Homo sapiens: one gene and its partner. The protein of the gene in region 2 interacts with the protein of the main gene of each other region in a pairwise test. Each region holds a gene or a part of one and is shown on either strand. Other genes may lie near its edges.

Evidence for each region.
Region 1: the proteins of KAT6A (region 2) and RERE interact in a two-hybrid assay, tested with the Homo sapiens proteins (one large-scale study listed by BioGRID and IntAct).

The regions. Positions count from the first base shown.
Region 1 is NC_000001.11:8,806,775-8,811,140, forward strand, and holds part of RERE (arginine-glutamic acid dipeptide repeats protein), read right to left. Parts: intron 1-4,366. UniProt on the Homo sapiens protein: Plays a role as a transcriptional repressor during development. May play a role in the control of cell survival. Overexpression of RERE recruits BAX to the nucleus particularly to POD and triggers caspase-3 activation, leading to cell death.
Region 2 is NC_000008.11:41,933,483-41,938,714, forward strand, and holds part of KAT6A (histone acetyltransferase KAT6A), read right to left. Parts: intron 4,087-5,232; coding exon 3,774-4,086; intron 1,386-3,773; coding exon 1-1,385. UniProt on the Homo sapiens protein: Histone acetyltransferase that acetylates lysine residues in histone H3 and histone H4 (in vitro). Component of the MOZ/MORF complex which has a histone H3 acetyltransferase activity. May act as a transcriptional coactivator for RUNX1 and RUNX2.

The DNA of each region.
Region 1 (4,366 bases), on a different chromosome or scaffold from region 2:
TAGCCTCCAAGTTCATCACTCCCCTGCTGTCATCATATTCTTGCTTCAGGCTACAATATGAGAGTACAATGTGACTAGACTTCAGCTTTGCTCTGCTAATATAATCACACATAATCATATTCCTCAAAGATGACACTCCTGTTACCAAAATTAGCATCAGCATCTTACCAAAATGCCATAGCAGTTATCACTGATGGTGGGTCAGTTTTCCACATGGCAAATCTTATTTATCACAAGATATCTTTCCCTAACTGTACCTTATGGGGTTCTCTTATCCTTACATTTTGTTGTTGTTGAGACAGGGTCTCACTCTGTCTCCCAGGCTGGAAAGCAATGGCACAATATTGGCTCACTGCAGCCTTGACCTCCTAGGCTCAAACAATCCTCCCGCCTCAGCCTTCTGAGTAGCTTGGGCTACAGGCACGTGCTACCACGCCTGGCTAATTTTTAATTTTTTTTGCAGAGACGGGGGTCTTGTTACGTTGCCCAGGCTGGTCTCAAACTCCTGGTCTCAAGGGAGCCTCCTGCCTCGACCTCCCAAAGCACTAGGATTACAGTTGTGAGCCACCACATCCAGCTTTATCCTTAAATTTGAAAAATACTTTGCAGTTCCGCCGCCCCCCACCCAGTCCCAGGGACTATACTGAAAAATGTCAGAATGTAGGGCTGCTTAGGCAGATAGCCAAATATTTTTAGTTACTCCTCACAGGCCATTACATCAACCTCATTAGAGATTTGAAGCCAGACCAACAAGAGGTCTTGCTCTTTCCCTCAATTGCCTTTCTTCTTGAATCTCTCTAAGAGGATGGAACACTAATCGGATTGGGTCAAGAGTCCACAGTACTGATTGAACCCTGTGTACAACTATGAAGATCAATGAAGATTAAAAGTTACACAAATCTTGATTCAAGTGCAAGATAGAAAAAAAAGTCACATACATGTAAGAGTTTGTGTTCTTGTTCTTGGTCATTTCACTCTTACACACTCTAAAAGACTAATTGTTGGGGTCTTCTGCAAAGCCATCAACCAAAGAGTAGTAAGACAGTGAAATTTAGGAGGATGAGAGAGCCCTTGACTAGTCCTGGAGCTTAAGTAATATGATGTCACCCTGTTTACTACACAAATTTACATTGGTATTTTGGCCAAAAGCCCAAATTAATAATAAAGTAATACTTCTAATTTCCTACTTGCCATTGTTCTACTTATATAAATCTCCTTCAGAGGCCAGGCGTGGTGGGTCATACCTGTAGTAACAGCACTTTGGGAGGCCGAGGTGGGAGAATCACTTGGACCCTCAAGATCGAGGCTGCAATGAGCCGTGATCATGCACCACTGCACTCTAGAACCTGGGCAACAGAGCAAGACCTTGTCTCAAAAAAAAAAAAAAAAAAAAAAACCTCCTTCAGGAAGCTAAGCCATGATATTCTGATCATTTATTAACACCCCAAACTTCAAACTGTACTATTACTCTATTCACTTGGTATTTAATCACATATTGTTTTTAGCATTTCCTATATTCAAGGAATAGCAAACATTTTAGAATTGGTACCTCAAAGAGAATCTATTCAAACCATCTAGAGTTCACCCATTGTCTCCTGCAGATCTCCTGATTATTATAAACAACAAAGAGAACATACTGGAAAGCTAGATCTCTAGATGACAATAACAGTAATAATAAAAAGAGGCTGATATTTATTGACCATTTACTATGTGCCAGGGACCTTTTTAAATACTTTATATGAATTAATTACTTTGGTCCTCACAACAAACCCACGAGTATTATTATTATCTCAATTTTACAGATGAGGAAACTGAGACCCAGAAAGGTAAATAACCTGCCCGAAGTCACAGAGTTAATAAGCAGTGGGCTGCAGATTGAGTCTAGAGCTCTTAACAACTTTTCTGCAATAGCATAATAGTTAGTTAACGGTAGACAAATACTACAGCTTGGTAAGTTCTGAAACTTAGGGCCAAAAAGATATTCAAGGAGGCAAAAGACAACACAGATCTGCATCTCCAGAGAGAGATTTTCAAAATTTGAGGCTGGACCAAATTGGTGTTTAAACAAAGTATTGAGGGAGGGCTGGGTGCAGTGACTCACGCCTGTAATCCCAGCACTTTGGGAGGCCAAGGCAGGCGGATCACGAAGTCAGGAGATTGAGACCATCCTGGCTAACATGGTGAAACCCTGTCTCCACTAAAAAATACAAAAAATTAGTCAGGCATGGTGGCAGGCGCCTGTAGTCCCAGCTACTCAGGAGGCTGAGGCAGGAAAATGGTGTGAACCCGGGAGGCAGAGCTTGCAGTGAACTGAGATCACACCACTGCACTCCAGCCTGGGCGACAGAGCGAGACTTTGTCTTAAAAAAAAAAAAAAAAAAAAAAAGTACTGAGGGAGAGGTTAATGGATAGAATCATGAGGAACATCAATATTTAACATAAACTCAGCACATTTTAGGTCAAAATGATAATACAGTAAGGTAGTATTTGTGTATATTATAGATATACAACATATATTACAAACCAAAATACATAATGATTATCCCTACTCCATAGGAAGTAGAACATAATTTAACTATAATTACTATAGGTTTATGGTAGCATCTCTGTTGGCTGTAGCTAAGATTTTTCATGCTAAGTCCTTAGGCAGGAATGCAACCTATAATAATGTTACTACAAGAGACAATAATCTGCTTTAAAATCTTTCTTCAGACATGCTTTCCAGGGAACAGACAGTTGTGAAACGAAAGTCAGCCTAAATAGATGGACCATATTTCAATGACTCTAAGACTCATAATGTTTGTTTTACATTTGTATAGTATGCCACTGGAATTAGGAAAGGTCTCACAGAGGTTAACTGGCATTTTTTTCATTCTTAGCAGTATACAAAATAATAATTCATTTTACAAATGATGGCATCTTGGAGTCAATAAAATGTTTTTCAGAATACATCTAATTTTAAGTGTGAACACACATACTGCTGTAGTCACAGGAAAACTTTCTGCCTTCAAGAGATGTATAATCTAATAAAGAGAACATAATTATCTCTAAAATATAAATGGAAGTAATAAACATTAATACAAGACATGAAGTGATCAAATGAGTGAGAAGGTTATAACAAGAACTGAAGAAAAGGTATTTAAGTGGTAGGAAATAAAAGTGGCCAAACCAAAAAAACTTCAGGCACTGTGTCCTGAGCACAGTTTGTTGTTTTTGTTTTTGTTGTTGTTGTTGTTGTTGTTGTTGTTTGAGACAGAGTCTTGCTCTGTCGCCCAGGCTGGAGTGCAGTGGAGCGATCTCAGCTCACTGCAACCTCCGCCTCCCGGGTTCAAGCGATTCTTCCACCTCAGCCTTCCGAGTACTGGGATTACAGGTACCCGCCATCGTGCCCAGCAAATGTATTTTTGTAGAGACAAAGTTTCACCATGTTTGCCAGGCTGGTCTTGAATTCCTGACCTCAGGTCACCCATCCGCCTTGGCCTCCCAAAGTGCTGGGATTACAGGCATGAGCCACCGCGCCTGGCCTAAAGTTATTTTTAAATAAAATAAATCCAGACATAGTGGCTCATGCCTGTAATCCCAACACTTTGGGATACCAAGGTGGGTAGATCACTTCAGCTGAGAAGTTCAAGACCAGCCTGGGCAACATGGCAAAACTCTGTCTCTATAAAAAATACAAAAATTAGCTAGGTGTGATGGTGCATGCCTATGGTCCCAGCTACTCAGGTGGCTGAGGCAGGAGGATCATTTGAGCCCGAGGGGGTCAAGGCTGCAGTGAGCAGAGATTGCGCCACTGCACTCCAACCTGGATGACAGAGCAAGACCTTTCCTCAAAAAATTTAAATTTAAATTAAAAAAAATTAATTTTACAGGTGCATCTCAAACTGTGTTCTATTAAACTAGAATAGTAGTATCTATCCCATGAGTATCTCATGAGAAAGAAACAGGTATTCTTTGGGGTAAGGGAGGAAAATGAAAAACAAAAACCCTCTATAGTATAAAATGTTTCTGAGGCTTTAAAGAGCTCATGTGCATTATAAACGTATTTCACCCCACACTTAAAATACTTGCAGCATATTAGGAAGCCATAAATACAGTTCGGGAAACACTGACTTGGGTAGGCAGGTAGGTAGACAGGTAGTCAGTAGGCGGGCAGAGTCACAGAAAATAAAAGGAGAATAAGACAAATGTAATAAAGTGATACCACCTAAAAAAAGGATCATAACTGACTACGAGTTATGACTATGAAGTCTCTTGAAGGAAAATAAGGTGTTAGAATAAGCTATCAAAATCAACAATAGCCGCCAGGCGCAGTGGCTCACGCCTAGAATCCACTTGTGTGGATATACTTCCCCAGCATAGCCAG
Region 2 (5,232 bases):
CCCACAGATGCTGCCGCCCATCGTGGAGTCGTAACTGCTTGGGTTCTCATAGTTTTCAGTGGTGCTCTCAATGCTGCCCAGGTCACTGAAGCCGCTGTCCACCACCTGCTGAGAGTGGTCTGATACGGAAGGCACATCCATCATGGGGCTGGTCTCCATGTTCTGCATAGAGGGTGCGGACAGGGATCCTTGTTCTGGGCTGATCTGGGTGTAGCCACTCTCAAGGGCAGGCACGTTGGGACTGCTGACCGAACGGACTGACTGGCTGGGGTGAGACTGAACGGAGGAGATAGGGCTATTATGTTCTGACGCATGACAGTCTTCAACCATGGACATCTGAGGGTCCTCGTCAGCCTGGGTGTAACTCTGCAGGGTCTGACACGCCGCAAGAGTTTCCTCACAGTCCTGGTAGGCGCCCTCATGCTCACTGCTTTCTTCTTGAGTCAAAGACTGCACTGCCTGTACAGTTTCCAGATCCAGCTCACTATGAGGAATCTCTTCCTCCTCTTTTAATTCGATTAACTCTTCCTTAGTGTGGGAGTCTTCTTCGTGGTCGTCCTCAGACCCAGCCATCTGCTCTGACACCACGGACGTGTCATGGGAAGGCTGCTCCTCTTCGGAATCCAGCTCGGTTTCCTCTTTATCCTTTATCTTTTCCCTACTCTTCTGCATATTAGCATCTAAAAAAGACTCTTGAACACCAGGCTCCTCCTTGACATCTTCCCTCGTGGGCTGTTCCTCTAGCTCCTTTTTCTTTGTGGACTCCAGGTGGCCATCATCCTCATCATCAGCGTCGTGGTCGTCATTCTGGGCAGTCTCTGCAGCTGCATCTTCCTCCTCCTCTGGCTCTGGCTCCTCTAATTCCTGCTGCTCCTCCTCTGACTGCCTCTGCTCCTCTGAGACACGGGGCTTCTCTTCTTCCTCCTCCACCTCAGGCTCCTTGGTTTCGGTCTCAGGACTATTGCTGCTGTCTGCTGGAGAGGCTGCTGGGACTTCACTGCTGGCTGCATCCTCTTCCTCACCCTCTTCAGCCTCTTCTGCCTCTGCTTGCATCTCCTCCTCCTCCTTCCTCTCCTCGGGTAGGGGCATGTCTTCTTTTGGCTCAACAGTTTCTTCACTCTCCTGGATCTTGGGTTTACGTCCAGCTTTAGGAATGGAAACGATGGGCTCAATGACGCATGCTTGAGTAGAAACTGGCATGATTTCCCGACTCAACTTAAATCCTGGTTTTCGACCAGGTCTTTTCTTCCAGTGGATTGGTTTGCGGCTCTTGCCTTTGGGCCATCCCTTTTTCTTTTTCAAAGGTGTGGATGTATCTGGCTCAAGAGGAGAATTCTTCACATCACGTTTTCGCAAAAGAGATACTGGCTTTAAGATAGGAGTGTCTATACAGGAAGGAAAAAAAACAAAGACAGGTTACAAGGTCTTACATTTTCTAGTTCCTTCTTCCAAGACTAGCATATACAATAGAAATGACTTTATTAATCATTACTTTTATAAACTCCTGATTGTCTTCATTTTAAAGTTAAGAACCTAGAGGATAAAACTAATTAGTGACATATTCTAAGTCACACAGTGAATTGGCAGAACTATGAAAGAATCCTGGTCAACATTATGTTATCAGACACTAGTCAGAACCAATTCAAGACTACCATCATCAGCTGCATGTCTGTGGGAAGTTACTCTACATTTCAGTTTCATCATCTGTAAAATGGAGATGAACTTTATAAAGAGGCAAATAAGTAGTAAGCAGTACTTTTATCAAGTTGTCTCTACTAAAAGTTACAAATTAGCTTATTTCCTCTTTTTTTTTCTGCTTGTGATTTACTTTATCTCTCGGATTTTCTTACTTTCCACAAATCATCACTTCAGGTAGTATGATGAGCCAATTACTCTAGGCCATGACTGAGCCATCGTATGTGAACAGTTGTTCAATTAATGTTGTGTTTGTATGGGAATAGCTGCAAAGCATTTATTTAGTCCTAGACAAAAACTGACATTTAGACTTAGACAAACAAGAAAAAATTAAAGCACCAATTACATTCATTAGAAATAAATTTTATATTATTAGCATTTTAAAAAAACTATGGTAAACTATACGTAACATAAAACTTAAAATTTTAACCATTTATAAGTGTTAAGTTCAGTGGCATTAAGTACACTCACATTGCCTATTAATTTTTAAAGAATAAGAATACCAAGACAAGAACATGATGCAGTGGGGGCACGGCTAAAAAGGCACAGTTAGTAGTAGTAACTTGAAAGTCAACAAAGGAAATGGCTGCATCAGCAAAAATCTAAGTCCATGGGAACTTAATCAGGGGTACTATTTTAGTGTACAATGATCTAAGACAGAATATAAAGTGCTAAATTTACAAAATAAATTTTTAGTTTCCTAGTTATGTTATTTCAAAACATAGCAAGTTAAACTCTGTAGAATCATTCATGATAGAGCAAAGAACACATTCATCTTATCACTATATTAAAAGTATTTGTTGGCCAGGCAGGGTGGCTCACACCTGTAATCCCAGCACTTTGGGAGTCCAAGGCGGGTGGATCACTTGAGGTCAGGAGTTTGAGACCAGCCTGGCCAACATGGTGAAACCCCGTCTCTACTAAAAATACAAAAATTAGCCAGGCATGGTGGCGTGCACCTATAATCCCAACTACTTGGGATGCTGAGGCACGAGAATCGCTTGAACCCGGAGGTGGAGGTTGCAGTGAGCTGAGACTGTGCCACTGCACTCCCACCTGGGTGACAGAGGGAGACTCCATCTCAAAAAAATAAAAAATAAAAAATAAAAAAGTATTTGTTATATAGAAAATATGAGAATGGAGAAAATGTAAGTTTATCTTCTAGACTTGAAACTGACTGAATTTTTAAAAGAATTAAAAAGTTCAACCAGTTAATGCATAAAAGCTAAAGGTTTATGTACCAAGACTGGACAAGTAGATTTCTTCAAATTTGCCCAACAAAGTAAAAATGCTCATTCTGAGCCCATGCGAGATAAACACACTGCAGATGCAGGCAGCATGAGACACTGGCAAAACTTTAGGCTAGGGTGAAAAAGACTTGTTTCTGACCTGGCTCATATATATGAGACCTAGTTTCAGTGTCTCTAGAGAAGAAATGACAACTAGGCTGCTTTAAAAGTAAATAGTTGGATTTGTATCTATACTATAAAATTTATTTTGAGTTATTGTTACCATTTGTGAGAAATTTACTACTAGTTGGGTAAGACACATTAGAGATACAATTCAGGAAAGACTCCTGAACAGATGTGACACAAGTTCCAATTTACATGAATCTGCTCTTTCTGGAGAATTGTCTTCTTAGCATTCACTCATTTAACACTACTTACTGAGCGCCGGGCTTAAGCACTCAGCATACAGCAATGAGCAAAACAGACTAAGTCTAGAGAATGCACATTCTAGTGAAGGGTTATTACATCTTCCTGATGCTAAGTCCAACTCTCCCATTAACTAAAGATTCTGATAAAGGCTTAGAAAGGATTGGGCAAAAAAGAACAGTTGCCTAATAGTAAGATATTTTCTGCAGAGGCAAATTAATAGAGGTTCTGAGTTGAAGGGAAAACACATTTAAAAATCAAGATGGATATACTTGATACAACTTTTTAGAGATTGCCAAACGTTCCTTTTCTTGCTTAGTGGGTTGTGTTCATTTTTCAGCCTTTTTACTGAAGGGTCTGTCACTGCTACTGCTATATATCTGAAGACAATAAACCACAGTAAGTGAGTTCTGTAAAACATACCATCAGCATCATCTGACTCTTCATCTTCTTCTTCATCTTTAGACTTCCTCTTAGAAGAGGACTGACACCTGAGTACATCCTGCGAAGACAAACGACGGAAGTATTCTCTAGGGAAAAGTTCATTTTCATCCTCTTCCTCCTCTTCTTCATCGATCTCAAACGTGGGTTCTAATCTTGGCATTGGCCTCTCGGAGTCAGAATCTTCAAAAGGTTCATCTAACACTTCAGTGGTCTCAGAAATAGTTTCTGTGACTACACTGCTATTGTGGTGTTTGCGCTTTCGGACTCTCCTCCTTCGGTGGAGAAATGGTTTCTGTTTAATAGAGAAAGCAAGTATTTACAGTTATGAACACTATCTTTTCTATTAATAATACGAAAACAGTTTTAAAACCAAATAGAATTAGCACATATAAAATGAGGATGTTGTTTGCCAAAAAATATTTTGAATATTATTTCAAAATACTATAGTAAGATAATACACTTATTATAAATACAAAGGTATTAGGCAATTGAACACAACTTTGTAAAAGAATAGGCAGCCATCTCCAAATAGCAGACATTATAATTCTCTTAATAGTTCAGTTAAATTTAGCACCCTAGAGAGTTGCCCTGTTTTAATACTGAACTGACCCAGAGGCTAATCCCTTAACTTTTCCAACTTAAGAGCAAAAGAGAAATAAAAACACTTTGTCTTATAGCACTACTGTGAAGGTTTGCAGAACTATCAGTAAAGTTGTATGCCATTTTCATGAACTACTCATAAAAAGCTGTGGAATGTAGAAATATGGGGCTGAAATGTATTTACTCAGTGTTAGTGAAATATTTCAAAAGTAAAATAAATCTGTTACTGAAATTTGGGCACACTGAGCACAACTTTGCACTGGACTGACCAAATAGCTAAAATTATACAACTAATATCACAAAATAAGAGATGATGCCCCAGAGATTATCTAATCCAATCCCTTCATTCTATAGATGTCAGAGAGGGTATAGGACTTGCTTAAGTTCACACATCCAGTCAAAGCATTTATTCATTAACTTCAAAATTACTTTGCATGTGAGCTTACTGCCTGTTCTTTTTCTTTTTTTAACATGATTTGTTTTACTTCATAAATTGGCAATACAAGTGCTAGGATGACAAAGATCTATTCTTCATGATCATGCAATGAACAGCAGTTAGTCAATGTTCAATTTTTCTCTACTTCAAACTTAATAGTCCCAATCGAGAATGTAATTTTCAAATTAGATTAAAAATGGCCCTGGTCCTTGGAGAAAAGGCTGATTCTAGGACAAGGGCATGAAATATACAAGATGAACTTGAAGCATCTTGTAGTGCCAGAAAGGAAATGCTTAAAAACAAACAAAAAGACCCCACAATGACAACAACAGTATATATGTTAAACACAGGAGGCCAGGCGCGGTGGCTCACACCTGTAATCCCAGCACCTTGGAGGCCAAG